Homo sapiens: one gene and its partners. The protein of the gene in region 2 interacts with the protein of the main gene of each other region in a biochemical or structural test. Each region holds a gene or a part of one and is shown on either strand. Other genes may lie near its edges. The genes, in order: JAG1, MIB1, EPB41L5 and CEP131.

Region 1 (7,996 bases), on a different chromosome or scaffold from region 2:
ACTGTAAAGTTACAATTAAAGAGCAAGACTACTTTGTAAGCCAGACTATGTCATTTCAATCACATCCTCCATGGCTTATCCACCAAAACCAACCCCTCAGTCCTGAAAGGCAACCTGCACTGAAAACAGAGCCATCTTTCAGAAAGGGACAAGGCAGGTAATGGCTGTGAAGCTCTGGAATTGCGCTTCAATGAAAGGTTTGTGGAGCAGTGTGGGAAACCCGGAGAGACTAGAAGCTCACCTGCCCACCAAGTGAAATTCAAGGTCGGTCTCTAGAGCCCAGCACCACCTTTATGGCTTTATCTTTCTGATGAGAGATTAAACACTCACTTAAAGTTTAAATGGACTTTTAAAAAGTCACTACTTTGATCCTTTAGCAGACTACAAGGTTTTAAAGTTGTAAAACCATTAAGATCTCTATCCCGAAGATAATCTAGGTTTCATAATCAGGGAATGAGTTAACTGGGATTCTGTTCTGGCCACTTAATATTCCAAGCAAAAATCCTAGAAAAGTTAAGGAATACATTCCACTGAAGGTTCACCCTGGGGTACAGGGGAGAACAGAAGGCAAGAGGTGGCAGAAATGCTAAGTACTAAGGAGACAGATCCAGCTCCAACTGGTTGGCCAAGCCCCACACTTCCACGTGTGTTTAGAGAAAAGTCCACAGAAGCGATACTTACGAACGGTGTCATTACTGGAATCCCACGCCTCCACAAGCAACGTATAGGACCTCTGCAAGACAAACAAACAATTTAGCAATTCAGAAACAGGGTCGACTTTCCAAAATCTCGTACATTCTTGGCCTCCCAGAATACCCCACCAAACAAAACCATAATGCCAAAATAAAAATTCTGTTGGTTGTTGCATTGAGTTCCTGGATGTTTAAATCCAAACCAACTCCCCTTCCTTTGTCAGCACTCTTCCCAGGTTGACAAATGACTCCTTTCACCTGGCAGGGACGCACTGGAGTCAACATGCATGCAGGCAGCTCAAAGTTGAGATCAGGAAATGCCACCTCACTATATGATATGAGAGTATTTAGCATATAGTTTCCCAAAACTTTCCAGACCCTGACCCTAGTGCATGAGGAAACACACACACACACACACACACACACACACACACACACAAAGAATTTATTCTAAGCTAACCTAACCAGGTATTTGTACCGAGGGGGTATTGCTAAGGTTACACTTTGGGCCCTGGTGAGGCAGTCTCTAGGGAGGCCCCCTTTTCCTTTTTAGAACCCCTTTGAAAACTCTGTCTATGTGAGACCATCCTGGCTCCCACAAGTATCGGGTAACTCTAGGAAACAGGAGGGGGTAGATGCAAAGTGACTCTGCAAGACAAAGAAGTCAACCTCACTTGGGCGGTGGAGTTGGGGGCAGATCCCAGGGAAGAAAGTACAAAGGGAGAAACAACCGCACACCCATGGGTTATATTTATTGATGAACTTATCTGTTAATAAGATCTAACATTCCAAGAATAATCAGAGTCTACTAACTAAACAAATTCCCTGGATACTGGCAAGATGCCAGCTGTTAAACTGAAGGCACCTTTTATCTTCCAAGCTTATCTCAGAATTCCACCTCCCCACCCCCAGCCAAACCTAAGCTATTAGCAAATTCCCTCCTTTTCTAAAATTTTCCTTCGTAATTTACAGTAAGGTCAGTCTCACAAAACACCAGCGTTTAAATGAAGCTTCTGCTATCTTGGCACTGAAGAAATGTACTCAAGGCAGGTGGGGTAGACAAGGAACATGAACTAGGTTATGAATCCCTGCTTTGCTGTGTCAGAAACCAAGCCATAGGAAATAGAAGCGTGTATAGATTAAATAATACCGTGCTGTGCCACCAGAAGCACACTGCTGCCAAGAGAAGAGAAAGCACCTATAAGATAAAGGAAAAAGAGAAAAAGGGAGGGTAAAAGGGAGTTTCATTCATAACTCAAGGCCAGCTTAGCGCTCTCAGAGTGACACAGCAGGTCATCTCTGAATATAAAAATATCTTGTGATAGACCCTGCCTTGGAATTCAGCCGAAATATGTTTCATACTCAAAGCAGAGTAGGATTCCATTTCGTTCACTGATAACTGTGGGAAAATGCTCAGAAAAGCAAGCAAAACCGGGCAAGCCAGGGCACATACCCAGCCCTCTCCTGTTAGTGGCCACAGGTCCAAATTCATTGCTGTTGTTACTATTTTATTAGCGAAAGTTATACCTTATTTACTGCCTCTTTAAGTTTCTTAGGACTTCCTGCAAATTACAGGACTCTTCCCTAAGAGCAGCAAGAAATTATATTTCTCTACTGATTTGAGGTAAGAGCACAGTCAAAATGAGGCCAGATGTGTGGCTGATTCTGTATAATTAAGCCCTTCATTTGCTGGTCACGTTGAGGCCCACGTCCTCCACTTCAACAGTATTGTTGTAATTAATCCTCTGATTAAATGCATTGATACCAGGAGTTTTGACAGACTTGCACAAGCGCTAAACACATAATACCCACAAACCCCACTGCAAGGGAAGGTGCCGGGACTGAGCTGGCATGGCAGTACTAACTCAGTTTAATACTCAAAGAGGAAAGCATCCTTAGGTCTTGCACAAGAACTTGGACGACCAAGCAGTCTACCAGGCTCATCCTCGCCAGAACTGGGAAAACCTCAGAAGTTGCTGACCGACATCACCCCACCTGGAGAGAAAAGAATTGCACACAGCCCTACGTGCCTGGCTCTGTGATTTTCCATGAACTGCCCTTCTTTCTCAGAGGCAGAGACAGGGTGAGGGCAGGGAGCTACAGTGACGGCAACAAAGCCTGGACTTTTTTTCCTGTCTGTTTCAGGGAGGGGATTAGGGTCTCCTGGGGCAGGAGGATTCCTCCTGCCCAGCCCTACAGAGAAAAAGGATTCCCTCCAAGGTTCCTATTAGGAGGCACTCAACCTCCCACTCCATCCCCACACTATAGATCAGCAATCAAGATAATTTAACAATGATTATTAGTTGCTAGAGAACTTTAATTTTTCCCAGGCCCACACTTGACCTCTGTACATCCCTGAACATACACCCAGGCACTGAGATCCCAGATCATGCACCCCACATCAAAGCAGGGACCAGGCCACAGAGCAGCAAATCCACTATGCCGAAGTCACATACAAGCAGCCACTGCAACTCTGACCCCCAGTAGAGGCGGAGTCCTCCATCCCAGGAGGGCTTGGAAAGGCAAGTGTTCAAACTTAAGTTTATACAGCAAAACAACAACAACAAAAGCAAATACCTGGGTTTTTCTTGATTTCAGACTACAGAACTAAGACTCTGCCGAAGAGTCACCTGGCTTTCATCTTTCCTTATGTTTTCCAGAACAGTACTGTGAAGGCCACACAGGAAGGAGGGGTAGCAAACAGATCTTTAGTCTGGATTTGCAAAGTGAGTCACTTCAGCCCCTTCCCAGCTCCAAGCCCAAGGAAATCTGGAAACCTGGCAGCTGGTTCCCATTCTGGTGTGGCATCAAAGAGGAATGGTCAGCCTTCGGAATTGCTTTTTGGAAGATTTCTGTGGAATTCTACCTAGAGGAGAGTCCTGGCATCAAAGCCCCAAGGCATCCAAGGGCCACCAGGTTCCCAGCAAGGCTGGGGCCCCTGCACCTCCTCCCGCCCTCCACACTTAGGCTGCTGTGCCAAGGTTGTGTTCTCTGCCCTGTCCCACTCCATGGCGGTTACCTTGGCACTGGGCAGAGCGGTAAGCACTTAATTGCCACATTAAGAAGGGGGGATGTAAGAAACAAAGGTAATTGTGTTGGCAGCCGGGAGCTTCCTTTTCCTGGCAACAGTGACAGCCAAACCAAGCCCTGAGAAGCGGCTGCCTCCCCTCCTGCCAAGCTGACGGACACAAATAAACCGCCATCCAAACGGCACGCGTGCGGCGTCCAAAACCCCAGGCTGCTGCGACAGGCAGGCCCGCCGGCGGCACGCACATCCTGGGAATGCCCGACGTGCCAACGCGGCCATTGTGCACAGTCAGTCGGCTCCCAGGGTTCGTCAGGGGCCCTGAGCTCTGCTGACTCAACTGTTGCTTCCTGTCGCTTGTCCTGTGTTAGCATTATTTTTGGAGAGGCCCTATTATTCTCCATAATCCTCATTTCAGTCAATTCGGCCAACTCTATTGTCCTGCCTGTGTCTGGGTGGCCAGAGTATAAAATATTCCAGTCACAAAACATATTAAGCAGAAAAGGTTGCAGGGAGTCCATGTGTGGCGCATGCACACGTACTCATGCACACAATGCGAGTGGGTTTTGGGAAAGTGAGATAAGAAAGGACAACTATCCTATAGCATCTAGGCTAAGACTTCAGGCACAGAAAGCAATCAAGTCTGTAGGGCTTGACATGTCAATAGAGTCCGATCTGGTTACAAAGGGTGATTTTCTCATCAAAGCCCACTCAAAGGCTCACCAAGGGGCCCCAAAGCTCATATCCAGATTTGTGACTCTCAATGAGACATCCCCACCCCCTTTCCCATCATTACCCTTACCTGTTTGAAAAGCATCCCACTGATAATTAAATGCACCAGTTACAAAAGGGTGGCGAGGTTAATAGATAGAATACCAAGAAGCCAGCCAAGCACAACGGTCTGGTTCACACAGAGCAAGCCTGAACAAGAAGCCTTTCTGTTTATTTACCAAAAGTGCATAAAAACTGGGTTGAGCTGGTAGAGGACTCTGCATGTTTGACTATTTATGTACTCCTTTAACTACTGGGAGCCACCTTGCGGAATTTCTTCCCAGCACACGCACTGCACCAATGGTAGATGTCACTGGCACCATAAAAAAAAAAAAAAAAAAAAAAAACAGCAGTCACAGGGCTGCTGTGGTCCATGCGGTAATCAGAAATCAGCAAAGAAGTCACAACACAGCCACCCAGTGCCATGCACCAAAGTAAAGGTGGGATTTTTCTGAACCCAGGACCCTCCTCCATTTCCACCACCATTTTAGAATCACCACTTTCCATTCATCCCAATGTATCTTCCAACAGTTGGAAGAAAAGATTAAGTTTTGAGAGATATATATATATTTAAAAGCTGAAGCCAAGAGTCACTTCTCTCAGCAGCCTAGATCCTAGGCTTGAAGGATGGGGGTAGGTGGAAGAGCAACATGCCTTACAGAAGTTTACCATGGAAGAATTTGCAGGAGTATTTGCATTTATGGATTACAACGCTAATTGTATGCACATCCAGAGATCATGCATTCTTACATTGTCACTAACCTTGAAAGCCGGACATTGGGACCAACTTCTGGCCCTTCTACAATGGGGCCAGTGGGTGATATGAATCCAGCCAAGGCCTCTGGTTCACATTCCTGTTTTCAGATCAGGAACTGTGAAGGCTCCTTGTTACCTTGACACTGTTTTTTTTTTTTTAAGTAACTTTTTTCTCCATGCTAAACTTTCCACGTCTTCTATCTAAAAGGTCCCCAAAGGCACCACTATTTGGTGTGAAGATTTTGAGCAGCACTTAGATTGCTGATTTTCTGGGAGGTTGCATGCCTGTAAGTTGCTGCTGACTCTCCTTTTAACCCACTGAACTCCCCCAAGAGCCTCCACGCCAAAGTTTCACCGTTTTCTAAAAACATCTTAAGTCCCTGTAGAATTACGGGTGTGGAACTGGTGGGTTGCAAATTCCTATAAGTACTGGAGGTTTGAATAAGTTGCTAAGAAACAAGACAACAAGGAGAAAGAAAACACAGAAGGTTACACCTGCAAGAGAAAAAAAAATTAGAAACCAAGTACCTGGAATAAAGATTCCATTTTTGGAGCAGCTATTCTGCAGATACTTAGCACAGCTCTTTCAAAGCAAGCACAGCTTCACTTTCCCCCAAGCCCAGTGTTGCAACACAGATACATCACTTCATCCCTTTGGTTTGAGGTAGACTTCTTAGGGCAAAAGGCGTTTTCTCCACATGCAGAAAGTCCCTTGCTCTGAGCACATACGTACACACATGCTCTTTCTTTGTATACATGCTGACTACACGGGCAGGATGCAAATCCTGGCTGCAGAAAGGAGGCAGGTCAAATCAGAACCCCATCCTTAAGCCCTCCATGTGCCCACACCATATCTACAGAAGCTCAGGGACTGGAAAAGACAGCAAAAGGCATAAAAGTAAGGGCCTGTCAATTACATTCTGTGATTAGCATCGTGGCAATTGGTCATTCAGGCCTGAAGCATGAAGGGGGCCAAAGCTGGCATCCCTCACACAGAAGAATCACGTTTCATTGGATTTTCCAAAAAAAAAAAAAAAAAAAAAAAAAAAAAAAAAAAAAAAAAGTTGATCTCAGCAAGTCTTTTAATAGGATCAATGGAATTTAAATATGAGGCTAATAAGCCAGATACCCCAATTTCTTCCCCTAACGTTTCTCTAGATTCATTTCACTCTGGGGCCACCGATGCAGCAATACAGCTAACTGGGGTTCTGAAGTTCCCAAAAAGCTTTTGGAGATGAGTAGTGGTAATTACACTAATGTATTTTTAATAAGCAGGCACTACTGGGATTTAGCACTAATTTTGGGAGGTACAGATTAACCGTTTCAGTGATTTATAAGTGGTAATTCCTAAATTATTTCCTGTTAAGCCCAATTACTTCCCACAATAATGGTTCTTATCACTTGGTCCCCCAATTTGAGAATCATTAATCCAGATAGTTGCTGCAAGTTAAGCCCCTTAGAGCAGCAACAGTATGAGAATTAGAAGCCAGTGGTGAAAAACTACCCCAAGACCAGAGCCGGGGCAGGGGACACCACGTGGGACATACTCAGATATGATATATGACAGGAAGGGCCACCTCTACAAAGCCTTTCACATGCACACCAGAACATGGACTGTATTTCATATCTGACCAAATCGTTTCCTCCTCGTCCTCTCTAGAACATGAACAGTTGCTTGGATAGGGGTCATAATTCCAAACAAAAAGCATGAACTACATGACCTTCTACACTGACCTACCCCTGCACCCTTTGCTGATACCCAGCGTCAGCAAATTTGGGAGGACTCATGCAAATGGTAATTGTGCCTGCTAGGGGTTGGGAGCCCAAGGTGGTTTGGAGTTTTGTTTTGTTTTTAACCATATATCCTTTTCTTGCTATCTCTTGAATTCTGTACTAAGTTCATTTATTTCCCATTCAAGGAAATCAGTTTTAAAAGACATAGTTAATTGCCAAACTAAATGAAGCTGTGCCCTCTAGTTAAATACTCGCTCAGCTACTTAAGTGTTTCAGTTACGTTTCTACTCAGCCTGGAATCATTCTTGAAAGTTACGGACTGTGCCGTTTCTCCAACCACATACAGAAAAACAAATACACCTAAACTCCAATTTCTCTTGAGAATTAAATCTTATGTTTCACAGCAGGCCTTTCTGGGGCATCAGGGTGGAGACTTGTTTATGAGTGATACATGCGTTTGTCCCAACTTCAAAAGAACCACATTTTCAGTGGTGCCCCATCGGTCTTCCCCCATTCGAGAAAAGCCGAGAGTCTATTTCATGGTTGGTGACCCGTGGGGCCTGAAACCACAGAAGAGCACCAGCAAATGCAAATCAATCGCCTCTCCTACCCTCCCACACTATTTCCGCTCGTTTTCCATTGAGGACTCTGACCAAGTGTCAAAAGCGGACAGACGCACTTTTCTAGGTCACTTTTCCTTGGCCAGCGAGGGAGCAAGCCTCCTTGTTTTCATGTTAGCCATCCCTCTGACCCTACTCTCCAAAATGAGCCTCAGCCAGGCTGCTGCTTTTCCACATCACTAATAAGATTCCTTTTATGGTCTTGTGAAAAGCGAGGGGCTCCAGACAGATCCTCCGGCAGGAGGGTGGAACCACCTGCAGGCCCCTTCCCCCTAAACTCCAAACACACGTTCAAGGGCAGTTTGAGTATTCACAGTCAGCTTGGGCCAGCCAGATTTAAACGCAGCCAGACTCTTTAGCTTAAAGTTCTCCCTAATAGGGGATTAACAAACAAGATA
Region 2 (7,996 bases):
TGATGTCATTAAATCTTATTTATCATTAATTCTAGTCTCAACTTCATAAAATGACAAAATACTATATTAAATATATCTTACCTTTGTCCTGGATTGAACCTGTTCTTTACAGATGAGGCATTTCTTGACACGTGGAGAACATAAAGAACAGGTAGCAATATGTCCACATGGACCAAAAAGAGTATCTCTCTTCATATCTGAGCACACCATACACTCTTCTAAGGTTTCAGAATCATTACTAATCATAGAAGGACTCCGAGAACCCACTTGACCACTAATAAAAGAAAGTATTTCAAATCAAGCCTATCTTATTACAAATTCACTAATTAAAATGTTTTAAAATATACCTGGAGCATCATTAGTATACATAAAAACTAGTCATATTAAAAAATTAAGCTTTAACATCTGTATGTGAAACATTAAATTTTTGTGTTTATATGCGTCTCTGCATCTTTAGATACTTCTAACACAATTCAAACTTCAAACTGAACACTCACTCACCCAATGGAAAAGGGTGAATCTTCTAACAATGAAATAAAAAACAGCAATTAAAAAAAAAACTTAGCATAAACAAAATTTTGCTCAGAACCTGTTGTATCTATATAGAACCAGCAGAGGAAGGCATAGGAATAAAACAAAAATCCTCACTAGCCCCCATGTTAGTTGCCTTACTAAAGACGGAACAAAGCATCATCAGAGTCCACAACAGATAGGGCACTTTGGAAAATTTAACACTTCAGCTGCTGTTTTGACATTTTTAAGTGTATCCTTAAGGAACATAAAATTATATTACAGAAAGATAGACTGCATCCGTAAACACAGATACAAGGAACAGAAATACATATGACCACCTACAGCTACAGAAAAGGGATGCCCTGTTTCTACCACAATCTTCAGAAACTCACGAACACGTACACAACACGTACACAGAGGGTCCACCTTAGACTCCATTGTTTAAAAGTTATTACTGCAATAATTATAGTGCCTTATATCTTTATATTTATAGATTTTTTTTTTTGGAGACAGAATTTTGCTCTTGTTGCCCAGGCTGGAGTACAGTGGTGTGATCTCGGCTCACTGCTGCAACCTCCGCCTCCCGGTTCAAGCAATTCTCCTGCCTCAGCCTCCCAAGTAGCTGGGATTATAGGCATGCGCCCAGCTAGTTTTTGTATTTTTAGTAGAGACAGGGTCTCACCATGTTAGTCAGGCTGGTCTTGAACTCCTGACCTCAATCCACCTGCCTCGGCCTCCCAAAGTGCTCAGATTACAGGTGTGAGCCACCACGCCCGGCCGATGCATTCTCTTTTTGTAATAGAATTTCATGTTCCTTAACAATACACTTAAAGAAATGTATATACCTCACTATATTAATTTCCTCTATAACACAGTTCTATGCACAGATTCCAAAGAGATGACATTTCATCACTACACATAAATTATGAGAGAGGCAAGGAACACTAAGGTTAAGGAACAGCTACTGAAATTTCAGTGACAAGAACCAGGTACAAAGGGCAACAACAGTTGCACAGCACTGTTCAGATTTAAAAAAGCAATGAGATGTGTACCTTTTTGTACATCTATAAAATCTCATAAGGAAATTAGTTATGTCATAAATAATAATTAAAATCACTGACATATCTTTCAGAAAAAGAGACAAATGTGAAATGATCATCTTTAGAGAAAACTCCACCAGGACTTGGTGCATTCATTTGTTCATTCTCCACTGATACTGAGTGCACCTGTCAGGCACTGAGCAGGGTGCTACAGTTTGTGTGAGATATACCCTGTTCATGGAGTATAAGTTGCCTGTCTTAGGAAGATTCTATTTAAATTTTAAATATAGAGCCAGGCACAGTGGCACATGCATACAGTCCCAGCTACTGAGGATGAAGCAAGAGGATTGCTTGAGCCCAGGAGTTTAAGCCCAACCTGGGCAACACAGCAAGACGTATTTTTAAAAAATAATAATAATACAATAAAAAATAAATACAATTTAAAATACATGTAACATTAACAACAGCAATTTTACTAGAAGACTTTTTCTCATAAATCCCTCTAACACATGGGAGTACTAGAAGATCAGACTAGTTTAGAAAAGTTTCTCAGAACTTATTAAGTATAGAGCATTGCACTCAATAATGTGGGGAATATGGCATAAAATAAGAGACATGCTGCCTGCAGAAAAATTTTCAAGGAAGAAAAATTTCAGGAAAGAAAGGGTCAACACAAATATACAGGAAGAGCAAAGATGAAGACATTTTCAAGTAGCCACGTCCTCCATTACGAAACCACATGATATTTTCTGTACAGAATATTAAGTTTTATGATAATAAATAATACAAACCTGACTTTTTCCTTATGACACTTTGCCAGTGCTTTGCAGAGATTCGGATCAGGACAGAGATCAAGTGGCGATTGACCCTTCTTATTTCGAATGCTCAGGTCAGCACCATTGGCTGCCAAGAAACAGGCAATAGATGCTGCACTCTTCTTCTCTGCCCCCTGGGTACCAAGTCCCATTATTAACTGCAATAAAATAAAGAGTCATGATTTTCCCTCTAGGAATCTGCCATCAATTCTTGTCATCATATATATGTATGTGTGTGTGGTGGACACTTATGAGTTCTAGTCCTAATGTTCCCTCCCCACCACTCTACCCCTGGTTTTCTCAAGCATACACACAAGTATGCTTTCTCCAGTTGTAGAGGTGGACCTACATTCTCCAGCTGCAGAGGTGGACCAAACATGGCCCAAACCAGTCAGATACCTCTACCTTACCTATATGGCTAGAACCGGGATGGACACATAACACAAATCAAGTCAATTAAGCCCAACAGAACTCAAAAGTGGAACTTCTGATTGAGATACTAAAGAAACAGTACTCTCTTTCCTAATTAATTTGGCTCTGGAGCAGCTAGCAACCAACTTGAAACAATGACAGGAGAGACAACTGAGAAAAGAACCAATGACTAGGAATTGAGCCAAGATACGGAGAATGAGACAAATTAGGTTCTGATAATATTATCTGAGATTCTTCTCATCATCTTATGTGAAAATAGTCACAATAACTGTTAACATTTATTGAGTGTCTAAAATGGATCAAGTATTATTTTACACACTTTCCATGATCTTTACAACAACCTTATCGAGGTAAGTGCTCTCCTCTTCCCATTTTAAAATGAGAAAAAAAGAGGCACACCGAGCTAAGAGAACTTACCCATGGTCATAAATAAGGCAGAGGTCTCAAACACTTTGGTCTCAGAACCTTTTTACCCTCTAAAAAATGATTTTAAAATTCTTATGGAAATGTGAAGGACTTAGAATAGTCAAATAACTTCGAAAAAACAAGAAAACTGGAGGACTGACACTACCTGACTTCAACACGTATTATGTAGACAGTAATTAAGACTGGGGGCTGGTATCAAATAGCTAAAAACATAGACCAACAGAACAGAATACATGATCCAGAAAGAGACCTTCACATAAACAATTAACTGATTTTGGATAAAAGTATACTGGCAATTCAGTAGAAAAAGAAAGTCTTTTCAGCCGAGTGTGGTGGCTCATGCCTGTAATCCCAGGACTTTGGGAGGCTGAAGCAGACGGATCATGAGGTCAGGAGTTCGGGACCAGTCTGGCCAACATAGTGAAACCTTGTCTCTACTAAAAATACAAAAAATTAGCCAGGTGTGGTGGTGTGCACCTGCAATGCCAGCTACTTGGGAGGCTGAGGCAGGAGAATCGCGTGACCCCAGGAGGCAGAGGTTGCAGTGTGCCAAGATCACACCATTGCACTCCAGCCCAGGCAACAGTGCAAGACTCTGTCTCAAAAAAAAGAAAAAAGAAAAGAAACAAAGTCTTTTCAACTAATGGCACTGGAACAACTGGATATCCACAAGTAAATAAACCTGGATCCATATGTCACACAATATATACAAATTAACTCAAAAAGAATCATAGACCTAAACATAACAGCTAAAACTTTATAAACTTCTAGTACAAAACATAAAAGAAAACCTTAGCGATCTTGGGTTTGGCAAAGATATCTCAGACAGAACACACACAAAAAACACAAATGATGAAAGAAAAACTTGATAAATTAGACTTCCTCAAAATTAAAAAATTTGACTCTTCCAAATCACTATTAGAAGAATGAAAAGGGCTGGGTGTGGTGGCTCATGCCTGTAATCCCAGCACTTTGGGAGGCTGAGGCAGGCAGATCACGAGGTCAGGAGATCAAGACCACCCTGGCTAAGGTGAAACCCCGTCTCCACTAAAAACAATACAAAAAATTAGCTGGGCGTGGTGGCATGCACCTGTAGTCCCAGCTACTTGGGAGGCTGAGGCAGGAGAATTACTTGAACCCAGGAGGCGGAGGTTGCAGTGAGCCAAGATTGTGCCACTGCACTCCAGCCTGGGCGACAGAGCGAGACTCCATCTCAAAAAAAAAAAAGAATGAAAAGACAAATCTCCTACCAACTGGGAGAAAATATGTGCATTCACATATAAAGAACTTGTATTCCGATTACATAAAGAACTCTCAAAACTCAGTAGTAAGAAAACAAACAGCCTAACAAAATAATGAACAAAAGATTTGAGCAGACACTTCATAAAATACATATGGTGACAGACAAATGAAAAGATGCTCAATATCAATAGTCATTAGGAAAATGCAAATTAAACCACAATAAGATACCACTACGTATCTATTTGAATGGCTGATGTTAAAAAAGAACTGAATGGCTGGGCGCAGTGGCTCAGGCCTGTAATCCCAGCACTGTGGGAGACCGAGGCGGGTGGATCACCTGAGGTCAGGAGTTCGAGACCAGCCTGACCAACATGGTGAAACTCCGTCTCTACTAAAAATACAAAAATTAGCTAGGTGTGGTGCAGGCGCCTATAATCCCAGCTACTTGGGAGGTTGAGGCAAGAGAATGGCTTAAACCCAGGTGGTTGCAGTGAGCCAAGCACTCCAGCCTGGGTGACAGAGTGGGACTCCACATAACAACAACAACAACAACAGAACTGAACAACTTTTGGTAAAAATGTGGAGCAATAAGTTAGTACTGACTAGTACTAAGTTCATAAACTAAGTTTCTAAGTACATAGCTCTGATAAAATATTTTATCCAATACAGGTTAGATTACCAGTAAATATAAGATCTTGCATGAAAAGATTCTTCCACTGGTACTGAATGAAAGATGATCTTTACTCACCGTGTTTTTGGATGGCTCCCAGGCAGCATCCACCTTCCCCACATCTTGCATATCTTGGAGCTGACGTAGCTGAGACAAAGTGTGATGCCTTAGAGCTTCATGCAAAGGAGTATCCCCATCCTTATCCTGAATATCAAGCTTGGCACCTGCACGGACCAAAAGCTAAAAGAGAAAGATGTCTCATTTTGGCAAAGTGTCCACATCCATAAGAAACTTCAACATATCTAAAGTAATGGTGAGAACACCCTGGACCTACTGAAGAAGTTACCACTAAAGCTAATCATTTTTATGCTTTTGCCTTCTACTCTTCTCCAACCCTGTGGCTCCTTACAAAGAGTCACGTGTTCTGGTTATTTAAATATATTGAATTAGAGAAAATAAAAATATATGAGAATCAATATGTTGCTTAATTCATCTACTCTAAGATGATGATAACGGAGGGATATTTAGGACTTTATTTCTCTTTTCAACTTTAGATGTATGACTTGAGATATTTTAAGCACTTCCACCAGGACCAAATCATAATGTTCAAAATTCTTCTATTATGTAAACAAACAAGGAACTGTTATTATTGATTCCATTCTCTTTTGGTCAATTTTCTCCAAATGTATGGTCATGAAGAAAGCCATGGAGGATATCAAGAGGAATTTCAAATAACAATAAATACGAACAGTGTTTGCTAAACTACAACCCCCTAAATAAAAATGCACAGTTGACATATTTCAATAGATTACTTAAGCAGTAAATATAAGTTTATTAAAACTTTGCTTATGGTGCTTTAACAATTTTCCTAATCCCTTCTACGATACTTACTGAAGAGCTTTAGAAAAGTACCATCTATATATAGAAGCCAATCTCAAGCATATGGTCTCATCTGTCTTGGCAGATCACATTGTATTTAGATATTTAGATTTACTTATATCTAACTATGCCAGCTTGAGACATGTAACACTGTATCATTTCAATTTTCAGGAAGTTCTAAAAATCTGTATGGTTAAAATGTAATTATAAGCTAAAATGTATGTCAATACTTTACCCTAACAATCTGGGTATGCTGTCGTTCAACAGCAAGGTGTAGGGCAGTTTGTTGGTTCACATTCTGGATATCCAGGTTTGCATTACCCTGAACGAGAAGAACAAATGTTAAATGGTTAAAATTTGACAACAGTAAAGAACATGAAAACTATAACTACTCATAAGGAATAAATAACACCGAACACTGCTGGCTACTTTCTCCTTCAGCTGCTGCAATGTTATTCTCATATGGTAACAGTTGCTGTTAAAGTAGAAAAAAATGGATGGGGCAACAAACTTTCTGAAGTAAAACAGCAAGTTTTAAAAATCATTTTTATTATGGTAATTCCACCCAAGAACAGTTAAAAAGGACAAAGCACAGTAGAGTTCAAAGACAGATCTCTTTCAATCTCCACTATAAAGCAATGGAGATAATCAACTCCTTAGAACTCTAAATATTTCCTGAAAAGTTATAATAATGAGTCTTCATACTGGATTTAGATTTACTTTAATGACCTAATAAGTTCACTTCCCCTTGCTGCATATTTGAGCTCTTCCTCACTCTGTGAAAAGAAAGTTTGCTTTAGGTGAGAAGGTAATGCTTAATTCGTACATAAAATTATGCATTAAAGTAAGCAGAAAATCCTACCCAAGAACCTAGGGCAGCTGAAGAACCGTATGAGAACAGCTGAACCCTAATGAAGAAAGAGACTGAGGAGCAAAATAAGTGCACTTGGGAGTCAGGGGACCTAGGTCAAAACTCCATCATCTACTTCCTCAGCTCCAAAATGGTGACAGTTAAAACCTATTTCACAGGGCTAATGTGAAGATTAAGTAAAATAACATATGAAAATGCCTAGCAAATGTCTAGCATAATTTAAAAATTTTTTAAAATGAGATCAAGAAAAGAGCTAAAGATTCAAAAGATAAACCGATCATTTCGTTTAGGTCTTAGAACCATGCATGCCCTCTGGTTACAACTCTTGATACTGGCGGGGTATGCAGAGCTGAAACTTTGGTAATGTTATGTCATATTCTTCAAGATGGGAATTTCTCATTTGTTTTTATTATGTTTCTTTGAAGTGTGGTCAGAAGGTACCTGATCTCAGCTTCTTTTCTTCTTTTTTTTTTTTTTTTTTTTTTTTTTTGAGATAGGGTCTCACTCTGTCACCCAGGCTGGAGTGCAGTGGCACATAGCTCACTGCAGCCTCAAACTCCTGGGCTTAAGGAATACTCCTGCCTTAGCCTTCCGAGTGTCAGCTTAATTCTTTATCATGTCTATTTCTCACATAAATGTGCACAATGGGGATTTTTCTTTAAGTTTCCTGAGCTTTTCCATCATTGACATTTCACTAAGTAGTATTCATTGCATAGGTGCACCACAATTTGCACAATTTGTTTATCCCAGCACTACCTGAACATTTGGCTTCGCTTCCAGTATGGGGCTAATAATAGCTGCTACAAACATTTAGTACAAGTATTTGCTTGGAAAGGTGTCCTATGTTCTCTTGGGTACATACCTAGAAGTGGGATAGCTGAGTCACATGATAAATATATGTCAAACTTTGTAAGAAACCACCAATTTGTTTTTCAAAGTGCCTGCTTTAAAAAAAAAACACCAGCAATGTATACAAATTCTAATTGTTCCACATCCTAACCAATACTTGGTTTTATTGGTCTTTTAATTTTAGTCATTCTAAGTGGGCAATTGTAGTAACTGGTTGTGGTTATAATTTCTATTTTGTTAATCACTAATAATGCTTTCA
Region 3 (7,996 bases), on a different chromosome or scaffold from region 2:
TGCAGAACAGCGAATATTGCTGAACAGCAAATGTTGCTGCCTGATTGTTCCTCTTGAAGCTTCGTCTCAGAGGGGTACCCAGCCGTGTGAGATGTCAGTGTGCCACTACTGGAGGGTGCCTCCCAGTTAGGCTACTTGGGGGTCAGGGACCCACTTGAGGAGGCAGTCTGTCCGTTCTCAGATCTCAAACTCCGTGCTGAGAGAACCACTGCTCTCGAAGGTAGTATTTCATTTAGTTTTGCATCTGGGTGTTCTTGCTAGGGACTCTCTGAGAGACTTGAGTTGAACACCTTTACGGTTGTCCCTTGATGCGTGAAGAACCTCAGGCAATTATCTTCCAATTTTTTGGGTGTTAAATCCCCTCATACCTCCAGCTTGTCCTGTGGGCAAATGTAACATGCTTCCTGGCCTAAGAATGCTTTAGGCAGAGAGATAAAGAAAGCTCCTTTTCTGCCTTTTTATAAGGTTGTCTTGAGAGTTAATTAATACTTGTAAAGCACTTAGAAGAATACTTAGGGCAGACCAGGTGGCTCACTCCTGTAATCCCCACCAAGGCAGGGGCTCACCTGAGGTCAGGAGTTCAAGACCAGCCTGGCCAACATGGTGAAAACCTGTCTCTACTAAAAATACTAAGATTAGCCAGGCATAGCATGGTGGCACGCACCTGTAATCCCAGCTACTCTGGAGGCTGAGGCAGGAGAATTGCTTGAACCTGGGAGGTGGAGGTTGTAGTGAGCCAAGATCACGCCACTGCACTCCAGCCTTTGTGACAGAGTGAGATTCTGTTTCCTTTCTTTTTCCTGCTATTATTTCTTCATTATTGTTTTAGTAAAGCTCTTGTAAAGTTATGTTTTACATCTATTTTATATGTTATATTTAAAGATTAGTCAATCGGAGTGTCACATTGTTTCGACATTCACAATTTATGGAAATACAGAGTTCAAATGTGTGGTAGGTGGTTTGGAATTTACAAGTAGGGAGATACAGTTGGAAAGCGGGCCATAAAGCGAGGTTAAAAAAATTAAGAAGTATTTCCTCTACCCAAAATTCCTGTTGAAAACAGAGTTGAGGCTGGTTGCAGTGGCTCACGTCTGAATTCCAACACTTTGGGAGACCAGGGTATGCGGATCACTTGAGCCCAGGAATTTGAGACCAGCCTGGGCAACGTAGCGAGATGCCGTCTCTACAAAGAATACAAAAATTAGCCTGGTGTGGTGTGGGAGTAAGGCTGAGGCAGGAGGATTACTGGAGCCTGGAAGTTCACGGCTGCAGTGAGCTGTGAACACACTACTGCAGTCCACCCTGTGTAATGGAGGGAGAACCTATCTCAAACAAACAAAAAGAGTTGAAAACCATCGTCAGTGTTTTTCTTTATGGCTGTTTTTTTTAAGCTTTATGGTCGTTCCTATGTCTAGTTCCTATGCTGCTGCTCTGCTTTAACACTGGAACAATTTTCCCTAGACCTAAAGAATCTCTTACACCATAATCGAGACCTATCAAATACATAGATTTCATTTTCCTTAACATTTTTAATGTCTGATATGTGCAACCTCAATTTTGTCTGAGATTTGCTTTTGAAATATGTACTGTGTTTTTCTGTTTCCTGTCTTTTGATGGGCATTGCAAGTTACGTTTACCGTCCTGTCAATTTTTAGTTCAGGAGTTAGATGGTTAAATGTATTTGAAATAAAAACAATTTTTTTCATATTTAGAGAACATTTGTTTGTAATTTGGCTTTTATTCTCTTATTATATTATAGGCCGAAGATAACCAGATTGGATTTTAAGAAGAATAAATTAACCTTGGTGGTTGTAGAAGATGATGATCAGGTAGGAATAAAATTATATTCTATTACTTGTGTAACAGTGACTGTATTATGTGGTAACTTATTTCTCTAAAAGAGGGAATGTACCTCATTGTTTTAAAGAGCCACAGAATGCAAACAGTATAATTAATGCTTTAAATAATTTCCTTACTTGGGTCATACCATGCTAAAAATATGGTTTTCTGCCCTTAGGATGAAAAATAATATAAAAGTGTCTTCTTGTTTCCTCATTGATCGTATATCTGAGGTGTATAAAAAATTACATTTAAGTGAGCCAGCCAGTCACCCAGGCTGGAGGGCAGTGGCACTGTCATAGCTCACTGTAACCTTCACCTTCTGGGCTCAAGTGATCCTCCTGCTCACTCAGCCTCCTGAGTAGCTGGGACTGCAGGCACATGCCACCACCACGCCTGGCTGATTTTTTCATTTATTTGTAGAGATGGGATCTCAGTATGTTGCCAAGGTTGCTCTCAAACTCTTGGCCTTAAGTAATCCTCCCATCTTAGCTTCTCAGCATGTTGAGATTACAGGAGTAAACCATTGTGGCAGACCAACTTTATCTCTTTATTAACTGATCAAAAAGATCTACCTAATAATAATAAAGCCTTTTGAATTAAAGATTACCTTTGTATCAGTTACAGTGTGGTTCTTAATTGATACATGCTTGGATGCAACTCACATGCATTGTTCTTAATGCAAGAAGCCAGATTTAAAAAATTATGTATTGAATGACTCCATTTATCTGATACTTTAGAAAAGGCAAGAAGAATTTTACTTTATGCAAATTAATAAATTTTAACATATGCATACAGATACAGATAAAAGCAGTTTGAGCAAAATGTTAACAGTTGTTGAGTCTAGACACTATGTATATGGGTATTCAGTTTTTCTGTATGTTTAAACATTTTTATAACGATGAAAATTTTTTTTTTGAATCCAGTTCTTTCATTTTCCTCTGCTCAGTAATTTGACTGCTATACTTTTCCTGTTTTAAACACACAATGGGATACTATGCAGCCATAAAAAAGAATGAGATCTTTTTTGCGGGACCATGGATGGAGCTGGAGGATATTATCCTTAGCAAAGTAATGCAAGAAGAGAAAACCAAATACTACATGCTCTTACTTACAAGTGGGAGCTAAATGATAAGAACTTATGAACACAAAGAAGGCAACAGCGGACACTGGGATCTACTTGAGTGGGGAGGGTGGGAAGAGGGAGAAGAGTAGAAAAGATAACTAACTGAAAGATAACTGGACTTAATACCTGGGTGATGAAATAACATGTGCAATAAACCACCATGACACGTGTTTACCTATGTAACAAACCTTCTCTTGTACCCCAAACCCAAAATAAAAGTTAAAAAATAAAAAAGAGTGCTGCTCTGAACACTAAGGTGTATGTATATTTAGCTTTTGTAGGTACTGCCAAACCTCTTTCCAAAGTATTTAATACGAGTTTATACTCCCACCAGCAATGTTATTGGTGTTTTTTTTCTTTTTTGCTAATGTTTGGAATTCTGTCTTTTTCATTGTAGCCATTCTTGTGGAGTAGAATGTGGTTTTAGTTTGTGTTCCCCTAATGACAACTCTGGTTTAGTACTTATCTGTGTAGTTATTGGATATGTGGATATCTTCTTTATGAAATGCCTACTCAAATCTTTTGCTTATTTTTCTATTAGGTCATGTGCCTTTTAGTCATTGAAAAAATTCTTTGTATGTTCTGGATATTAATTCTCTGTCAGATATTAGTGTTGCAAGTATCGTCTACTCCTTGTTTTGCCCTTTTTCCACCACTTTTATTTTTAGATGACATATAATAATTGTACATATTTATTGCATACAGAGTGATATTTTGATACATGTATACAATGTGTAATTATCAAATCAGGGTAATTAGCGTATCCATCTTTACTGTCTTAATAGTGTCTTTAAATAACCTGAAAAGTACCAAAAATTATAAAATAGATAACCATCTTATTAATGATCTAGATTTAACATTTTTTACATTTTGCTTCAGTTCTCTTTTAGAGAAAGATAAATACAATTATGTGCATGAATAAATAATACCAACTAAAGTCTAACCCCCTGACTACCTACCCCCTTTCTTCTGGTACCTGGTCACCAATTTTGGAGGGTATTATTCTCATATATATTTTGTAACTTTTTCCAAATATTAACTCATGTTAGAATTGTTTTAAAAACTTGCATAATTATATATATTTGCAGCTTGCCTGTTTTATCTAAACGTGTACCTATGTAGATCTAACATATATATATGCTATTGTGTAATATGAATAAACAATAGCACATTCATTCATTCATCATTTATTCATTTATCCCTCTGCATAATTTTTTACATATGCCTCTATTTACTTGACCATTTCTCTTTTTTTGGACGTTTAGGGTTTGTACCAAGTTTTACTATTATAAATGAGACTGAGGAAATATACATCTTCATATATAACTTTTGATGTTTAGGAAATAATTTTCCCCAGAGAGGCAGTATAACTTAGTTGTTAGAGGTGTATGTAGATTCTGGAGCAAGACTAATGTTTAAGTTCATTTCCGGTTTTCTTTCTTAATAGCTTTGTGATTTTGGGCTTAATTTCTTTGAGCCTCAGTTTCCTTATCTATGAAATGGGGCTAATGATAGTATCTACTCATTGAGATAATTTATGTGAAATCCTTAGAAAAATTTCTATATGAATGTTAACTATTATAATTAGACTCATGGCAGTGTGATTACTATGACAAAAATGTGAGCATTTTTAGGGCTGTTGATGCATACTGCCAGATCTGATATGATTCCTCAAATTATAATTATACAGTTATCCCAAATAATGGCAGATAAAATCTCATTTTATGTCTCTCTCACAAATGAGATCATGTAAGTAGAGGGGAATAACTCCTAGGAATAATTTTGTATTGGCTGATAAAATGAGCAACTTGATTTCAGCTCTGCCCTTATTATGTTGATACTATAAAGAGTGTCTGAATTTCAGGGAGCACACTAGATCCTTTATTCATGGATGTGTTTGTATCTCAGAAATAGGAGATAGGACTGTTTGAATTAGTAATCATCCTTTTATATATACTTTTCTTTTTCAGGGCAAAGAACAGGAACATACATTTGTCTTTAGACTGGATCATCCAAAAGCATGCAAACATTTATGGAAATGTGCTGTGGAGCATCATGCTTTCTTCCGCCTTCGAGGCCCCGTCCAAAAGAGTTCTCATCGATCAGGATTTATTCGACTAGGATCACGATTTAGATATAGGTTAATTTTAATTGCTGTTTTATCTGTCTTTCATTGCATACAGGCCAAAAAATTTAGGCCAATCTTCTCTTTTTTACAGATATGGTAACTAAGGTATAGAGGAATAAGGTGGTTTGCCAGAGTCTTCCATTGGCCAAAATAAAATAGAAAAAGTGGTATTGTTATTGGTTATAATTTCTTGAATAGATGCGTAAACAGTAATTGTATAATGGCTTTTATATCCCTCTGGATGTTTACTTTATATATTAACCCACTCCCAGTTTATCTATTTAACAAGAGTTTTATGGACTCTCCACCCACCACTGGATACCATATAGAAAAGGGTTTCTTGCACTGAATGGGATATTAGTCTGGATAACATTTGTGGTCCTTTATAAACCTGAAGGTCATTATTCTCATGACTCCTTGTTTGTTGTCATGAGTTAGAAATGTTTTGGTTTACTGCAGAGTGGATTATTGGTTGTGAGTTTTCTGCATGCCATGGAAATCAGTTAAAGAAGGAATGGATTGTACCAATAATGTGGCCAGTTGATTGTGTGGAGTTAATAGAAGTAGTACTGTAGTCTACTTATATTAAAAGTAAGGAGGCATTTTCTAAACAGAATTTAAATGGAAATCAAGGAGAATAAGACAGTAGTCTTAAAAAACATTTCTGGAAAATTATACTGAAAAGTGAATATCACAATTAGAAAAAGTAACTGAAAATATTCTTTTAATTACACACTTTGCACTGAGGAATGTAGATGGGAAAGAGAGGGAGTTTCCATAAAAGGACAGATATTTCAAACTTATTTAATGTGTACTTAGGTGATATGCATGCATATGAGAAAAATAAAACCAACATAATCTGTTGCATATTTCACAAAAGCCGAAAGAATGATATGGTAAAGAGAGAGATCGAGACTATTAGTAGCTGTTCCTGTGCGATGAAGTTTAGGATGATTCTTTTAAGGAGAACCTGAATGTGGACTGTCTTATTTGTGTGTGTTTATTACTGTAGACCTAAAATTTCCCTTACTTCTGTTATGCCTCATTTAGTGGGAAAACAGAGTATCAGACCACAAAAACCAATAAAGCAAGAAGATCAACATCCTTTGAAAGAAGGCCCAGCAAACGATATTCTAGACGAACTCTACAAATGAAAGGTGAAGTGCAACCCTCTTTCAAAGGATTATTTTTCCTTGGCAATTAATTATGTGCTGGTGTTGTTTCCATAAGAGGAAGTTACCTGAATCTCCTCCTCAGGTCTGTTCCAGTCAACTAAAGTACTTTTCTGGCAGAATCAATTTCATGGGATACACAGAGAAAAATTGCCTGTATTGTTAGCAGAGATTAAACTTTATGTTAATCCCAATTCAAATGATAGTCTGAGGTTATGTTCAGTTTTTGTATACAAAACTGTTTCTGTAGAGCAACATATTCTCTCCCTTTTTGACTTACAGATCTCATTCTAAAACATCCCTTAATCCCCTTAGGAATTTTTAAAAACATTTTTATTTATTTATTTATTTATTTATTTATTTATTTATTTTGAGATAGTCTCACTCTGTTGCTCAGGTTGGAGTGCAGTGGCATGATCTCAGCTCACTGCAACCTCCACCTCCCAGATTCAAGTGATTCTCATGTCTCAGCCACCTGAGTAGCTGGGATTACAGGCATGCGCCACCACTCCTGACTCATTTTTGTATTTTTAGTAGAGATGGGGTTTTGCCATGTTGGCTGGGCTGGTCTTGAACTCCTGACCTCAAGTGATCCACCCACCTTGGCCTCCCGAATCCTAAAAGGATTACAGGCATGCCTGGCCAAAACATTGTCTTGTGATGAATTTTTTTTAAGTAAAATTTATTTCATATTGTATTATAATATTAAGGATTGTATTAAATACCATTTTAAAATATATTCATCATTGTTATACATAGACATTTCCTAATTCATAATTGTTACTTGCTGATTAAGATCAGTTATATAAGAAAAAGCACTATTTACCTTGACAAATAAATTAAACCTTGTGTTTGGTTTTAAACTGAATTTGCATTAAAATGAATTTGCATTAAAATGCAAATTTAATTTTAAGTATTTCCACTGTCAGAGTCATCACCAGTTGTCCAAAAACAGCTGTAATGATCTGATGTTTGGCAGTATTGACTTTTTTATAAAAATGATTTATACTCATAAGTTTTGGTGTGGCTGTAAATTAAATATACAGCTATAAATGAATTGTGATGATTTTAAAACCCTAAGTTTCCTCTTGGTTTCCACTGATGATAATTCATAATCAGTCAGCTCACTCTGGAGGCTTACAGATTGGTTCTGTTTAAAAGGAGGAGATATATATGCATTGTATTGCTTTATTTGAAAAATGAAAATAATTGCCATTGTTGCCTCTATGGTGTGAATCCCAAAACACTTTGGTGAATTGAAGGTTTTTAGATTTATGGTTGGGGCCAAATGTGGTGGCTCACACCTTTAATCCCAGCACTTTGGGAGGCCAAGGTGGGAGGATTGCTTGAGCCCAAAAGCTCAACTCTTAGGAGTTTGAGACCAGCCTGGGCAACAGTAGTGAGACCCACCCCTATCTCTACAAAATCATGAAAGACCCTTTCTCAAAGAAATAAATTTATGGTTGTGAAACATGGCTTGTAAAGCAATTAGTTAAAGTTTTGCTTTGAATAGTGCAGCAGTTTATCATGTAAGATGAAACTAATGAGGTGTTATCTTTTTTCTTCTGTTAGCATGTGCTACAAAACCTGAAGAACTTAGGTAAGTAATGTTTTGCAACTTAGGAATTGGTATAGAATTTGGGATTTATGTAGTTGCTATCATTAAACAAATATTTAAGACCTATCAAAATGTCAAGTTGTCCGTAAAGCACCAGGGATATGTCAGGGAAT
Region 4 (7,996 bases), on a different chromosome or scaffold from region 2:
TCTGGGGTGCTGCTGGCTTATTCCCACCCACGGGCCTTGCCCTCGCCACCCACCTGTCCATCATCCAGGGCCCTCCTGCCCTGGCATACACTGACATTGGGCTCAGAACAGCTCCCTCATGTTCCTGTCGAGGAGCCTGCCACCAGCCAGAGGGGTGCATAGGTTGTGACAGGCCTTCCCAGGAAGTTTGGTGGCCAGTGGACCCAGCTGAGGCTGGGCTGGAGATGGTGGGTGCAGGGGACTGTAGTTCCCCCACGGCATCTCATTGCAGCTCTTGCTTCCCCGCTCAGGACCTGCCTTGTCCACCATGAAAGGCACCCGGGCCATCGGCAGCGTCCCGGAGCGCAGCCCAGCAGGTGTGGACCTGAGTCTGACAGGTCTCCCTCCGCCTGTGTCCCGGCGTCCTGGCAGTGCCGCCACCACCAAGCCCATCGTCCGCTCTGTCTCCGTGGTCACAGGCAGCGAGCAGAAGAGGAAGGTGCTGGTGAGTACTGTGGCCTAGGAGTCCGGGCCCCTGCCTCCTGGAGGGCTGTTGTTCAGTTGGCATCTGACCCCTGGGTCCAGCTCCACAGGTGAACAAGTGCCTCACATCTGGACATGCTGGATCCTCGTGGCTGTTCCAGGAGGCAGGTAGGACTTGAGTCTTACAGGCGTGGGTGCTGAATCACTAGAAAGTCAAGCCAGAGCTTGGATTCTTTCAGCAACAGCCCCAGGCCTCCTGTGCCACCGCCCTTTGGATTTGTTTGAATCCTCAGGAAATGGGGTTGGCTGGGCTCGGTGGCTCACGCCTGTAATCTCAGCACTTTGGGAGGCCGAGGCAGGCGGGTCATCTGAGGTCAGCAGTTCAAGACCAGCCTGACCAACATGGTGAAACTCCGTCTCTACTAAAGATACAAAAAAAAATTAGCCGGGCATGGTGGTGCATGCCTGTAATCCTAGCTACTCGGGAGGCTGAGGCAGGAGATTTGCTCGAACCCAGGAGGCAGAGGTTGCGGTGAGCCGAGATCGTGCCGTTGCACTCCAGCCTGGCGACAGAGTGAGATGCCATCTCAAAAAAAAAAAAAAAAGAAAGAAATGGGGTTGACCTGTGGGGAGGGGTGATGAGCTCCTGGTGGCCTTGGAGAAACCTAGACGGGTGTGTGGGTGTGTGGGCAGCAGGACAGCCGTGGGAGCTTCGGGGTGAGAGCTGCCTTTCCTGCCCACCTCTGGGAGTAGGGAGGAGGGTGGGTGGTTCCCAGATGGGGGCTGTGAAAGGCAGGCCGGGCCTGCTGCACCCTGAGTTGGTGTCTGCCAGGCCCAGTCTTTGGGGCAAGGGAGGAATCGAGCCGCTCTGTGGGGGTTGGGGCAGAGCCTGACCAGAGTCTGGCCTGAGCTTCCGAATAGCAAGGGCCTGGGGGCCTTGGCTTCCATGCGGCAGCCGGTCTGGGGCTCCCTGCCTGAGGTCCGTGCCAGGCAACATAGCAGGGCAGAGAGAAGGGGTCTGGAGGGCAGTTGAGGCTTCCCACAGGAACCCCTGGCAGGCCCAGGCCAGGGTTCCACTGTGAATAAAAGGCTTGGACCTCCCCCTTCTCCTTGAAAAAGTTATTCCTGTGTCTGCCCTAGAAGCACCCCCAGGTGGGCAGGGTGTGGCCCGCCAGACGGCTAGCCGAGTTCCGGGGTAAGGGCAGCCGGGCCAGTAGCGGACCCTTGGACCAAGCAGGTTCCCAAAGCCTGGGCCAGCAGGGCGGGGACCCGGGATGTCCTGATGTGTCATTGTGGCCGGCAGGTTGTCTAAAGATGTGGTACGCCTCTAGGCATTTACAGACGTAAGCTGTGAAAATAAAAATATGCTGCACTGTTTTAGCAGAGGGGTAACCAGCTTGGGCTAGAGCCGTCTCTGAGCCTGCTGCCTCTCCTGTCCGCAGCCCTGCTCCTGCGTCACTGACCCCCTCGCCCACCTGCCTTGGCCCCTCCCGCTGTTTCTAAAGCCCTAGGTTCATGGCACATGGGGCGGGGAAGACGCACTCGAAATCGCAGATCTGGGCTGGGCGAGGTGGCTCACGCCCGTGATCCCAGCACTTTGGGAGGTTGAGGCGGGTGGATCACCTGAGGTCAGGAGTTCAATACCAGCCTGGCCAACATAGTGAAACCCTGCCTCTACTGAAAATGCAAAAATTAGCCGGGCGTGGTGGCGCGCACCCTTAATCCCAGCTACTCAGGAGGCTGAGACAGGAGAGTTGCTTGAACCCGGGCGGAGGAGGCTGCAGTGAGCCGAGATCATGCCACTGTACTCCAGCCTGGGCGAAAGAGCAAGACTCTGTCTCAAAAAAAGAAAGAAAGAAAGAAAGAGGGAGGGGGAGGGGGAGGGAGAGGGAGAGGGAGAAGGAGAAAGAAAGAAATTGCAGCTCTCTTGTTGTGTGGAGACTGTTGTAAAAGTTTCCGGGCTTTCTAGTAGATGGTCTTTCGGCGGCATGGCCAGGCTCTATCCGCGGCCGACCCAGGCACCTAACCACACTCCCAGCCTTTCTGCTGGGAAATGTTCTGTTGCTGAGTAGAGGTTCAAAGCCACAGCGAGCGCTACTCATATCGATCCCTCCTTTCCTCGGCTGGTACCATTGCCCGCTCCCGCAGTGTTGAGTGGCGACTGCTAACAGTCCCCTCGTTCATGGAATGTTCCAGCTGTTCACTTCAATTCTTTGAGGCCCTCGCTCGATCCGAGACGGCCCCACCCCTGCATGCCTGTCTGCCTTCTGTTGTGCCCATGGTGGGAGCTCGGGAACTGCTGGTGGAAGAGGAACCCCCGCCAGTGTGTGACGTGACCTCAGGGGTTTCTGTTGTGCCCGGTCCCCATCCTCTCGGCCACCTGCCCTGCTACCACTCAGTCTCATCGGGATTCCTGGAGAGCATTTGTTTTGGCCAGGCATGGCTTCACACCTGTACAAGGCGGCACGTGATTCTCTTCCTCCTGGTGTTTGTGGGTGGGGTGGGGTGCTGTCCCCTGGCTCGGAGACCTTCTCGGTGGCCATTGGCCTGGGGTTTCCACTCTACCCCTTGTCTCTAAAGATCTTCCTGCGTCCACGGCCTGCTGTCCCGGGATTCCCCATCCAGGATGTAACTGCAGTTCCTGCTGGTCTTCTGGCTCAAGAGATGTCGGTGCCAGACTGTAGAGGGTCCCTCTTCCTTGCCCCAGCTGTGTGCCCACCTGATCCTCTAGCCCCCTAGATCATTATTCACTCTGGTTCCCTTCCCCTTAAAGAAAAGAGGTCTTTAAATCCCAAGAGCACAAGCTCACTGGGGAACAGACATCACTGTGCATATGTGTCATGGCCATGGGGGCCACCTGCCCCTCCCTGGGCGATGTTGCCTCCTTCTTGCAGGTGGAGTTTAGGGTTTTTAGTCCATGACTTGATTTACCATCTGAGCATGAGTGGTGCCTTTCCACCGTGGTGTCCGTCAGTGAGTGGCAGCCCCTTCATCCCTCCCCTGACATCCCTTATCTTCCTCTTGGAGGCTGCGAAACTGACCCCAGGAAAATGGAGACAGGATGAAGGGCACCCATAATCCCATGGCCCTGATGCAATGACTGGTGCCATTTTGGGGGATGATTTCAAAATTCCTACCATGTGTTTTGAATAGGCCATTCACACCCACCATTTGGGAAAAGGGGGCTCATTGAGCAGTGAGCCTGTCCTGCCCGACCTTGCGGGCCTCTCCTAGGCGGCCACTGTTCTGTTTCTCCTGCACCCACACTTACTCTGGGCACACAGGCATCAGTGATGCTGGAGATGTGTTGGAACAAGTGCCGTATCCGTCAGCTGCGTGGGGCTCCTGCATTCTCTTTTCTTTTTCTTTTTAAGACGGGGTCTTGCTCTGTTGCCCAGGCTGGAGTGCAGTGGAGAAACCACAGCTTACTGCAGCCTCCACCTCCCGGACACAAGTGATCCTCTTACCTCAGCATCCTGAGTAGCATGGATTACAGGTGCTCACCACCCTGCCCAGCTAATTTTTAATTTTTTTTTTCTTTTGAGACAGACTTTTGCTCTTTTTGCCCAGGCTGGAGTGCATTTGTGAGATCTCGGCTCACTGCAGCCTCTGCCTCCCGGGTTCAAGGGATTCTCCTGCCTCTGCCTCCCAAGAAGCTGGGATTACAGGCATGCACCACCATGCCCGGCTAATTTTGTATTTTTAGTAGCGACGGGGTTTCGCCATGTTGGTCAGGCTGGTCTTGAACTCTTGACCTCAGGTGATCCTCCTGCCTCAGCCTCCCGAAGTGCTGGGATTACAGGTGTGAGCCACCACACCCAGCCTACTAATTTTTAATTTTTTTGTAGGGACAGGGGTCTCACTAGGTTGCTGGTCCTTAACTCCTGGGCTGAAGCGATCCTCCCACCTCGGCCTCCCAAAGTGCTGGGATTACGGGTGTGGGCCGCTGCACCTGACCCTGCTCCCGCTTTCCTTACATTGTTTTGTAGCAGCTGACAATAGTTCATCAGATGATGCACCAGAACTTCACCCAGTGCTCCTCTGGATTTTCCTTATCATAGTACCAAGAGTGGCACAGCAAATACCCTGTGTCTTTGCCATTTTGCATACATGTAAATACGCCTGTAGAATAAATCCTAAAGGATAACTACTGGGTCAGAGCATAAGTCCATTTAAAATTTTGAAAGGGGGGCCAGGTGCGGTGGCCCGTGCCTGTAATCCCAGCACTTTGGGACGCCGAGGTGGGCAGATTGCTTGAGGTCAGGAGTTCGAGACCAGCCTGGCCAACACGGTGAAACCTCGTCTCTACTAAAAATAGAAAAAATAGCTGGACGTGGTGGCAGGCACCTGTAATGCCAGCTACACAGGAAGCTAAGGCAGGAGAACTGATTTAACCCGGAAGCTGGAGGTTGCAGTGAGCCAAGATCGCACCACCACACTCTAGCCTGGGTGACAGCGAGACTCCATTTCAAAAAAAATTAAATAAATAAAAAAATTTGAAAGGGGGCCGGGAGTGGTGGCCAATATCTGTAATCCCAGCACTTTGCGTGGCTGCGGTGGGAGGATCACTTGAGGCCAGGAGTTTGAGACCAGCCTGGGCAACATAGTGAGACCCCTGTCTCTACAAAAAAATTAAAAAATTAGCCGAGTGTGGTGGTGCATGCCTGTAGTCCCAGCTACATGGGAGGCTGGGGCAGGAGGATGGCTTGAACCCAGAAAGTTTGAGGCTGCAGTGAGCTATGATCATGCCACTGCTCTCCAGCCTGGGCAACAGAGTGAGACTCTATCTTTTAAAATTAAAATTAAAACTAAATTGTAAATTTTTGGCCAGGCGCGGTGGCTCATGCCTGTAATCCCAGCACTTTGGGAGGTTGAGGCAAGCAGATCACGAGGCCAGGAGATTGAGACCATCCTGGCTAACACGGTGAAACCCCATCTCTACTAAAAATACAAAAAAAAAAATTAGCCGGGCGTGGTGGCAGGCACCTGTAGTCGCGGCTACTCGGGAGGCTGAGGCAGGAGAATGGCGTGAACCCAGGAGGCGGAACTTGCAGTGAGCCGAGATCGCGCCACTGCACTCCACCCTGGGCGACAGAGCGAGATTCCGTCTCAAAAAAAATTTTTTTTTTTGATAGGCATTGCCAAGTTGCTGTCCGTAAAGATCATTGCCCTAAGTCACACTCGCATCACAGGGTGCCACGGGGCCTGCTCCCTCGTGCTCTGGTTGGCACACGTGCAGCACAGTTTTGGCCTTTACAGGATCCATATGTAACAAAAGATATCTGACTGTACTACCTTTTAGTTTACTTTTTACTTTTTATTTTATTTTTTTCTTTTTCTTTTTTGAGATGAAGTTTCACTCCTGTCACCTAGGCTGGAGTGCAATGGTGTGATTTCACCTCACCGCAATCTCTGTCTCCTGGGTTCAAGTGATTCTCCTGCCTCAGCCTCCCGAGTAGCTGGGATTACAGGCGCCTGCCACCATGCCGGGCTAAGTTTTGTATTTTTAGTAGAGACAGGATTTCACCATGTTGGCCAGGCTGGTCTCAAACTACTGACCTCAAGTGAATCCGCCCGCCTTGGCCTCCCAAAGTGCTGGGCTTACAGGCGTGAGCCTCCGGCGTGACTGTACGATTTTTAAAAATAAACCTTTTATGTTAGTATAGTTTTAAATTTATAGAAAAATTGGAAAGTGCAGGGTGTTCCCCTGTACCGCACCCAGTCTCTGCTATTTGAATATCTTACATTATGATGGGACGTGTACAATTAACAAGTCATTATTGGTAAATCACTGACTAAAGTCCACACTTGATTTGTATTTTTGCAGTTTTTCTTTTCTGTCCCAGGATCCCACATGATTTTTGGGCTGTGGGTCTCAGGCTTGTTTGGGCTGTGAGTTTCTCAGACTCTCCTTGTTTTTGATGACCTTCGAGTTTTGGGGAGAGCTGGTCAGGGATTTTACAGAATGGCCCCCTGTTGGCCCTTGCCTGATATTTTTCTCGTGATCAGACTGGGTGGTGGATGGGTTCTAGGAGGAAGGCCACAGAGGTAAAGTACTCTTCTCACCCCATCCTGTCTGGGGTCCACACTGTCCATGTGACCTCTCACTGGTGATGCTGCTGGCCTTGGTCCCCTGGCCAAGGTGGAGGGTCAGGCTTCTCCACTGTGAGGTCGCCCATCCCCTGTGCTCTCTGGAAGGAAGTCGCTTTGTTCAGCCCACATGGAAGGGGTGGGGAGTTTTGCTCCCCCTCCTTTAGAGAAGAGCATCTATAGAAGTTATTTGGAATTCTTCTACACAGGAGATTTGTCTGTTCACCCTCATTTATAATTTTTTTTTTTTTTTGAGACAGTGTCTCACGCTGTCGCCCAGGCTGCAGTGCAGTGGCATAATCTTGGCTCACTGCAATCTCCGCCTCCCGGGTTCAAGCGATTTTCCTATCTCAGCCTCCTGAGTAGCTAGAACTACAGGCGTGTGCCACCACACCTGACTAATTTTTGTATTTCAGTAGAGATGGGGTTTCACCATGTTGGCCAGGCTGGTCTCGAACTCCTGACCTCAAGTGATCCTCCTGCCTTGGCTTCCCAAAGTGCTGGGATTACAGGCATGAGCCACTGCACCTGGCCCCACTTATTAATTTTTTCAATCATTTATTATAATGGACTCGTGGATATTTATTTTACACTTCAAGTTATAATTCAATGCTAGTTTGCTTATTTTGTTGCTCTCATTGTCACAGCTTTGGCCACTGGGAACTTTCAGGTGGCTCCTGGGTCCCTGTGTCATTGCCCATCACTTTGTCTTCTGAGCACGTCCTTATTTCTGGCCCTATAAACTGCTCCAGCCTCATCTTGTCTATTTCCTCCTCCAGTCCTAGAATCAGCCATTTCTTCAAGAAGCCCCGGTTCTTTTTCTTGGAGAGTGGTCTCAGAGACCAAGGTCTGGGAGCTGGGTGTGCTTGTCCCTACTGGGCTGTTTCTGGTCTTCTCAGCCAACAGAGCAAGGAAGTATGTAGTGTACGCCAGTTGGTGTGTAATATACACACTGTCTATAGATAGTAACCTACCTAGTAACCATTGGTGTTGTGCGTCCTACTGATGTCTCTGCCGCTAGTGGCACCTCTCGCCCCCCCGACGCTTGCTGATTGTAACCTCCCCTCCTGCAGTGAGGATGCGGCCCCATCGTCTGCTGTCCCTGGTTTAGCTCCTGTGTGTGTGTAAGGTGTGTAAGGTGGTGTCACAGTGGATAACCCAAACCCCATGGGAAGAACACCACCAATGCTGTGCTATGCTCTGGGACAGCCCCTCTGCACGGGCCCCACTCCTGCCCACGGCTCCTCGGGACAGCCCCTCTGCACAGGCCCCACTCCTGCCCAGGGCTATTAGGAAGAGCCCCTCTGCCTTTAGGCTGACAGGCCCCACTCCTGCCCGGGGCTACTCGGAACAGTCCCTCTGCACGGGCCCCACTCCTGTCCAGGGCTGCTTGGACAGCACCTCGCCCTCCACCTCTGATTTTATTTCTAACTTAACATCTGTG

The links.
Region 1: the proteins of MIB1 (region 2) and JAG1 are reported together in a solved structure, tested with the Homo sapiens proteins (one study listed by BioGRID).
Region 3: the proteins of MIB1 (region 2) and EPB41L5 form a complex in vitro, tested with the Homo sapiens proteins (one study listed by BioGRID).
Region 4: the proteins of MIB1 (region 2) and CEP131 form a complex in vitro, tested with the Homo sapiens proteins (one study listed by BioGRID).

What each region holds. Positions count from the first base shown.
Region 1 is NC_000020.11:10,663,282-10,671,277, forward strand, and holds part of JAG1 (protein jagged-1 precursor), read right to left. Parts: intron 734-7,996; coding exon 682-733; intron 1-681. UniProt on the Homo sapiens protein: Ligand for multiple Notch receptors and involved in the mediation of Notch signaling. May be involved in cell-fate decisions during hematopoiesis. Seems to be involved in early and late stages of mammalian cardiovascular development.
Region 2 is NC_000018.10:21,841,474-21,849,469, reverse strand, and holds part of MIB1 (E3 ubiquitin-protein ligase MIB1), read right to left. Parts: intron 6,340-7,996; coding exon 6,253-6,339; intron 5,379-6,252; coding exon 5,217-5,378; intron 2,527-5,216; coding exon 2,345-2,526; intron 275-2,344; coding exon 82-274; intron 1-81. UniProt on the Homo sapiens protein: E3 ubiquitin-protein ligase that mediates ubiquitination of Delta receptors, which act as ligands of Notch proteins.
Region 3 is NC_000002.12:120,085,412-120,093,407, forward strand, and holds part of EPB41L5 (band 4.1-like protein 5), read left to right. Parts: intron 1-1,759; coding exon 1,760-1,829; intron 1,830-4,935; coding exon 4,936-5,105; intron 5,106-6,143; coding exon 6,144-6,250; intron 6,251-7,837; coding exon 7,838-7,865; intron 7,866-7,996. UniProt on the Homo sapiens protein: Plays a role in the formation and organization of tight junctions during the establishment of polarity in epithelial cells.
Region 4 is NC_000017.11:81,212,368-81,220,363, reverse strand, and holds part of CEP131 (centrosomal protein of 131 kDa), read left to right. Parts: intron 1-290; 5' UTR 291-307; coding exon 308-484; intron 485-7,996. UniProt on the Homo sapiens protein: Component of centriolar satellites contributing to the building of a complex and dynamic network required to regulate cilia/flagellum formation.